Linked DNA regions of Homo sapiens. The protein of the gene in region 1 interacts with the protein of each later gene in a biochemical or structural test. Each region holds a gene or a part of one and is shown on either strand. Other genes may lie near its edges.

Region 1 (3,752 bases):
CTGCTCCTTCCGGCTACACATGTGTACAAAAATTCATCGCTGTTTCTTTTCTCAATCTTTGAGTAAAATCGATGGTGCCAGCAGCTGCTCCATGTTTCTCTTTGACTTGGGTGCCCCATGGCATAAGCCACAGAGCCTAGCATGATAGGTCTAACTCCAGGCCATTCTGTGACCAGGCTTGAGCCTACGAGAAGCTTTGGCTCAATCTGCTGGGCATGTACAGAGTGCCTGAGTTGAGAGGCGTCTACGAAGCCATCTGTTTAACTAGACTAGCTGGTGTCTGATGAAGAATTGGTTTCAGCAGGAAGCCATTTTACCAATGTCCAAGCAGACAGCTTCCTCCCTGAAGGGCCAGGGATGGTTTTTGAAGGAATAGAAACCAACTCTTGGCTGGGAACCCCTAAGTGGCTGGGGCAGAATCAGGGACCGTGCACATAGTAGATGCACAGGAAATGCACACTAAGCTGGACTTGTTAGCCTATCATATGTTAATTCCATATTTTATGTCCTCAACCTAGAAGCTGACTGTCACAGGCTGTGAGCCCCTGAGGAAGACAGACATAGATAAGGGTGAGCTCCTCACCCCGTGAAGATGCTCTAATAGCGGGATATGCAAGGCGCTCTGGCACCAAACACCAAGCCCATCCTAACATTGTGCAGTCTCATCTGGCTGTATCCAGACCAGTCTGACTGCCTCTGCTGCAGCCTCAGTGTCCAGGGAGCTCTAGCCTAGGATCCTAAGGCCTCATGAAGTCAGACTGGCACAGCCATGCCCCCTATTCCATCTGGCAGCTGCAAGCCACCTCCCTGGCCTGGGCCCTTTGCTCAGTCCTGACCTCTTCTGCTCCCAGCCCTGTAGCCCACACACTGAAAGCCCAAGTGCTGTTGACTTAGAGCTTGGGTTCATCTTCCCTAGAGGCTGGCCCTTGGTGTTCCATACCCTTCTTTGGCATGGAGTCCCCCAACCCCGACTTTTCCCACTCTCATTCCAAGCTCCCTGAAATAAAATGTCCAGCCCCAGCTTCTCAGTAGGGTACCCAGCCAAACCAACTCCAGCACTCCTTTCACTCTTCCCAACCAGGAAGGGTCAAAATGTGGGCACCAGGCTCTTCCTGATTCTCTTAGGACAGAAGAGACTCAGACAAATCCTGGCAGCCAGAACCTCAGAACCTGATGTTGTTGGAGGTCCCAGAAGCTGGGGGGGGGGGGTCTTAGAACCTGTTGTCTACCCACTTAGTTCCCTTCTCTAGAGACAAGACAAAGCCCCACTCCTGAGTCCTCATGCACAGGACACATTACTGGTTGGCCTGGCAGATTCAGATCAACAACAGCCCCGAGGTTAATGAGTACACTCATTTTACAGATGAGGAAACAATTTCATCTGTGGCTGCCCAGCAAGGCAATGGCAGAAATGAGATGCGTTCTCTGGCTTTCTCACTCTGTAGCTATTCTGTTGTCACCACAAAGCACACCCTCCTTGGAGTTATAACACATTCAACCTCTCAGCCAATCAGAAAAATGAAAAGCTGAATGTAGAAAAATAAGGTTGCTCTAAAAGCAGCAGCCCTTAGACACAGAACCCTGGGACGCTGGTATACATATGGTGCCAACAACGCAGAATGTAAGATGCTTGCACCTATAGGAAACCAGCAAGACTACCCAACCCGTTCCAGACCATGCCCAATCCTAGCAGGTGTGGGGCCCCAGGATCAACTGTGTGGGCTACTCATCACCCACCCCATCCCCCAAATGTTCCTAGAGTTGGAATGAAGTTGAAGAGGCACAGTAATTATGCCTGGAGTGGGACAAGGGAATATCGGCTCCTTGCGCCTATGCTTGGTGACAGTGTGGTGAGGATCAGAAACAAATCGTACATCCACAAGCCTGAACTAAAATTCCACATTGTTTATTCACGCAGCAAACATTTTGGCCCTTGGTGTCAGGCCTGTGGTAGGTCCTTCAGACACAGAGAAGAAGAAAACTTAATCTTTGTCTTCAAAACACTCACAGTTGAGTAGGGAGCTCGCCTCTCTCCTCAAAACTCACTCCCACAGTAATCACCAAGTGATGGCAATTCTTCCCTCCTGAAGAGCCTGGGACTCTTTCTCCCTGCCTTGCCTTGTTCAGGAGCTCATGGAACCCTGCCTGAGACTTATTGTAGCTATTCTGTTGTCACCATAAAGCACATACTCCTTGGAGTTATAGCACATTCAACCTCTCAGCCAATCAGAAAAATGAAAAGCTGAATGTAGAAAAATAAGGTTGCTCTAAAAGCAGCAGCCCTTAGACACAGAACCCTGGGATGTTGTGAAAGCATCAGTGGCTCCCATTGCCTTTAGAAAGATATTCAAACTCCCAACCATGACCTGGAGTACCCAGTAAGATCCACCCTTTGCTGGCCCCTCTAACCCAGAGCCACCCATCCCACTCTCCTCCTTCCTCATCCTGCTTAGGCCACCACTTTTCAGAGCTGCATGTGCCTCCCCTTTCCTATCTCAAGGCTGTGGCAGAAGCCATTCCCTCCACCTGAAATGATCTCCCACCAACCATGCCCTTAGAATGAACAGCTCCTTCTTCTCCTGCAGGTCTTAGCCTAAACGTCACCTCTGTCATCACGTGCATTTACAGCACTGGACTCTTCATTCATACAGCTGATCACAGTCTGTGATTACCTCATGTATTTGGCCAGTTGCAAACCATCCTTCTCCCCACTGGAATGTAAGCACCAGGAGAGCAGGAGGCAGGCAGAGGCAGGAGACTAATCAGGGGCTGCTGGAACCCAGAGTCCAGGTGAGAGAGGTGGAAGCCCTGAGAGGATGAAGGAACGGGGTCTTTACGATTAAAAAAAACTTCACCAAGAGACACTCACGTGGAAAATTGGCAAGACCTGCCATCCCATTGGTTGTAACAGAAAAGAAGACAGGATCAAACCTGAAGTCCATGGTTCTGCCTGAGGCCACCAGGCAGATGCATGTCACCAGTAGAGAGGGGAGAGCTGAAGACAAGCAGGTTTATGGGCAGTGGAAGAGGATGAGTGGCAGTGATCTCATCACATTTAATCTCAGGGAGGTCACATTTGAGAAGCCCAAGGGCAGAAAAGGGCTTTAATGCCCCCACCCTCTAGTATGGTAAGGACACTTATTACAGAAACCAGCGGAGCCCCACGAGGAGGACAGTGGGTGGTGTGTGCTGAGAGGGGTGGACCGAACAAAACGGCATGTGCAGAAGCTCAGCAGGTGGCGGCCCTGTTGTCCAGAGCCCAGGGAATGAAGTGATGTGGCTGCCAGGTGCACCGCAGGGGACGTGCAGGCTGGCTGAGAATAGTGCCAGCTGGGCAGAGCCTCATGAGGTCACTTTGGGGTCTGCCTGCACTCAACGCTTTCACAGCCTGGCCTGGCTGGTCAGCCTTTGCTTGCACTTCTTCAAGAGCAACGAGCCAGCACTGGGAAGTTGAATTTGGCGGCTCGTCTACACTAGGATTTCAGTTTTCAAGACTGCCAGGCAGGTGCCATCACTCCTCCTTCATAGTATTTGCCAAACCTGCACAGGAGAAGTAGGATTTGAACCTTCTCTCCCACTGGGTCACTATAGACAAATCCTTAACTTCCCTTCATCGATGATTTTCTGCCTCATTCTGAGGAGCCCTGGGGGCCACACTCCCACATCAATCAGAGCAGTCCCATTTTTAACTGTTTTATATGTTAGGTTTCCACATGAGATTTTATCTTTCCTAGTGCTTTAAAAAGCTTGAC
Region 2 (3,752 bases), on another chromosome or scaffold:
TTTTAAAAATCAAGTTTATCACACATCGTTGCATTAATTTACCATGCCCTGTTACATTTTTAACTCTTGCATTGGCATGTTCTGGAAGGAGCTGTGTAGCTTTCACAGTGTGGAGCCCTTGTGTCAGTGTTATAACTCAGGTATAGTCCATATTAATTACCTACATTACTGCACTGCTAAGTATTAGACTTCCTGCCAATTGAGTGGTGAATGTACAAGAATGAATGGGAGCTCTCATTCTGTTGAGAACCTTTTTTCTTAAAGTTAGGTTTGTTGAGATGTAATGTTCATCTGTTTTAAGTATACAGTTTGGTGAATTTTGACAAGCGTATAGTTATGTAACCGCTATCACAATCAAGATGTAGAACACTTCCATTGCCAGAAAGGTCCCTTATGGCCCTGTATAGTCAGTGCCCTCTCCCTTTCTTAGCCCCTGGGTAACCACTGATCTGCTTTCTGTCCCTGTAGTTTTGCCTTTTCTAGGATGCTATGTAAATGGAGTCACAGTGTAAATAATCTTTTGTGTCTTCTTTCACTTAGAGTAGTGCTTTTGAGATTTATTTGAATGTGTATCAGTATCAGTAGTTCATTCCTTTTTATTGCTGAGTAAGTATTTCCTTGTTTGGATGTGCCACAATTTTTTTTAATCCACTCACCAGTGATGGACATTTTTGGCTATTGTGACTAGAACAGTTTTCTTTTAGTATTCTGTAAAAATACTTTTTATTGTGCTTACCCCAGGAATCTTATTTAAATTTTAAGTAATTGTATATAACTGTGATAAGAATGTCGCTTATTAGATCAAGACTAAGAAAAGGCAGGCCGGGTGTGGTGGCTCATACCTGTAATCCCAGCACTTTGAGAGGCTGAGGCTGGCGGATCACGAGGTCAGGAGATCGAGACCATCCTGGCTAACATGGTGAAACCCTGTCTCTACTAAAAATACGAAAAATTAGCCGGGCGTGGTGGCAGGCACCTGTAGTCCTAGCTACTCGGGAGGCTGAGGCAGGAGAATGGCATGAACCTGGGAGGCAGAGCTTGCAGTGAGCCGAGATTGGGCCACCACATTCCAGCCTGGGCGACAGAGCCAGACTCCATCTCAAAAAAAAAAAAAAATTAGCCAGGTGCGGTGGTGCATGCCTGTAATTCCAGCTACTCAGGAGGCTGACGTGGGAGAATCACTTGAACACAAGAGGTGAAGGTTGCAGTGAGCCGATATCATGCCACTGCACTGCAGCCTGAGTGACAGAGTAAGACTCTGTCTCCAAAAAAAAAAAAAAAAAAAAGCAGACAACTTGCAACATTATCTTCATCCTTGTACACTAATTTGTTTTTGTTTGTTTGATTTCCAAATATTAATGTCCACCCTTAGTGAATGGGTATATAAAAGTTTACTGTTGGCCAGGTGCAGTGGCTCACGCCTGTAATCCCAGCACTTTGGGAGGCCGGGGCAGGTGGATCACCTGAGGTCAGGAGTTCGAGACCAGCCTGACCAAGATGGCAAAACCCTGTCTCTACTAAAAATACAAAAATTAGCCGGGTGCGGTGGCGGGCACCTGTAATCCCAGCTACTTGGGAGGCTGAGGCTGGAGAATCGCTTGAACCCTGGAGACGGAGAGTGCAGTGAGCTGAGATCAAGCCATTGCCCTCCAGCCTGGGCGACAGAGGGATACTCCGTCTCAAAAAAAAAAAAAAAAAAAAAAAGGCCGGGCGCGGTGGCTCACACCTGTAATCCCAGCACTCTGGGAGGCCGAGGCGGGCAGATCACGAGGTCAGGAGATCGAGACCATCCTGGCTAACACGGTGAAACCCTGTGTCTACCAAAAATATAAAAAATTAGCCGGGCGTGGTGGCAGGTGCCTGTAGTCCCAGCTACTCGGGAGGCTGAGGCAGGAGAATGGCGTGATCCCGGGAGGCGGAGCTTGCAGTGAGCCAAGATGGCGCCACTGCACTCCAGCCTGGGCGACAGAGTGAGACTCCATCTCAAAAAAAAAGTTCACTGTTGCTGCATCGTGTTATAGCTCAAAAGAACTACTCAATCTGATCCAGTGAGGTTGCTGAGACTCAGAGAGGTGACAAAGGCTGCTAGTAATGACAGAAGACCACTAACTATTTAGTAGCAAAGCCTCTACTGGGCCCCAGATCTCTAGCTTAGGCTCCACAAGGAGATGTAGTTGTACCTGTACATAGAGTATTTCTAAAACTTTTTTTTAAGCTTGTAGATCAGGGGTGTCCAATCTTTTGGCTTCCCCGGGCCACATTGGAAGAATTGTCTTGGGCCACAGATAAAATACACTAACACTAACAATAGCTGATAAGCTTTAAAAAAACTGCAAAAAAAATCTCACAGTGTTTTAACAAAGTTTATGAATTTGTGTTGGGTCACTTTCAAAGCTGTGGTGGGCTGCATGCAGCCCTAGGGCTGTGGGTTGGACAAGCTTGCTGTAGATTTTATTTTGATTTTGAGACAGTATCTCGCTCTGTCACCCAGGCTGGAGTGCAGTGGAGCAATCACAGCTTGCTGTAACCTTGACCTCTTGGGCTCAAGCAATCCTTCCGACTCAGCCTCCTGAGTAGCTGGGACTACAGGCGTGCCCCACCACATGCATGGCTAATTTTTAATTTTTTCGTAGAGATGAGATCTCCCTGTATTGCCCAAGGTGGTCTCTAACTCCTGGGCTCAAGCAGGCCTCCTGTCCCAGCCTCCCAAAGCACTGGAATTACAGGTGTGAGCCACCACACTCAGTCAAAACTATTTTTTAAAATATTTTATTATAGGAAAATTTAAAAAAATAGAATGTTATTTATCAATGCTTCTCAGCCACAGGGTGATTTTGCCCTCTAGTGGACATTTGACAATGTCTAAAGACATCTTTGGTTATCACAGCTGGAGAAAGGTTTGGCTGACCAGGAATGCTACTAAACATTTTACAGTACGTAGGACAGCCTTCCACAGCAAAGAATTACCCGGCCTAAAATGTCAGTAGTGCCAGCGTTGAGAAACCCTGGTATGTACTTAGCCCCCCATGTACTCAACAGCGCAGCTCAGTGGCCAATCTTATTTCATTTATAAATGAAGAAGCAAATGCAGTATCATTTCCTCTCTAAAGCTTTTAGAAGAGATAAAGCCTGTTTTAAGAAAAAAGCAATACTTTTATCATATTTTCTTAATATCAAATATGCAGTATTTAAATTTTCTCACATTTCTAATTTTTAAACTGTTCAAATTAGAATCCAGCTTGAATTCATACATTATAGTTGGCTGATATGTCAAATATGCTTTTTTTTTTTTTTTAATTGAGATGGAGTCTTGCTCTGTCGCCCAGGTTGGAGTGCAGTGGTGCAATCTCGGCTCACTGCCAACCTCTGCCGCCCGGGTTCAAGCGATTGTCGTGCGCAGCCTCCCGAGTAGCTGGGATTACAGGCTCCCGCCACCATGCCTGGCTATTTTTTTTTTTTTTTTTTTTTTTTTTTTAGTAGAGATGGGGTTTCGCCATGTTGGCCAGGCTGTTCTCAAACTCCTGACCTCAGGTGATCCGCCCGCCTTGGCCTCCCAAAGTGCTGGGATTACAGGCGTGAGCCACTGTACCTGGTCAAAATATGCTTTTTAAAGGCAACCAAACAGTTTGCATTTCAGTTTATGTTCTATAGTTATATGGAGCCACGGATACATCCTTTTTCTATACTGGCAAAATGAGAAACATATTTTTCACCTGAATTTCAAAGGATATGACACTTCGTAAGCCTGGTAA

What was found. Proteins that work in one complex are often made in the same cells at the same time.
Region 2: the proteins of RASGRF1 (region 1) and MARK3 form a complex in vitro, tested with the Homo sapiens proteins (one study listed by BioGRID).

The regions. Positions count from the first base shown.
Region 1 is NC_000015.10:79,084,033-79,087,784, reverse strand, and holds part of RASGRF1 (ras-specific guanine nucleotide-releasing factor 1), read left to right. Parts: intron 1-3,752. UniProt on the Homo sapiens protein: Promotes the exchange of Ras-bound GDP by GTP.
Region 2 is NC_000014.9:103,388,263-103,392,014, forward strand, and holds part of MARK3 (MAP/microtubule affinity-regulating kinase 3), read left to right. Parts: intron 1-3,752. UniProt on the Homo sapiens protein: Serine/threonine-protein kinase. Involved in the specific phosphorylation of microtubule-associated proteins for MAP2 and MAP4. Phosphorylates the microtubule-associated protein MAPT/TAU. Phosphorylates CDC25C on 'Ser-216'.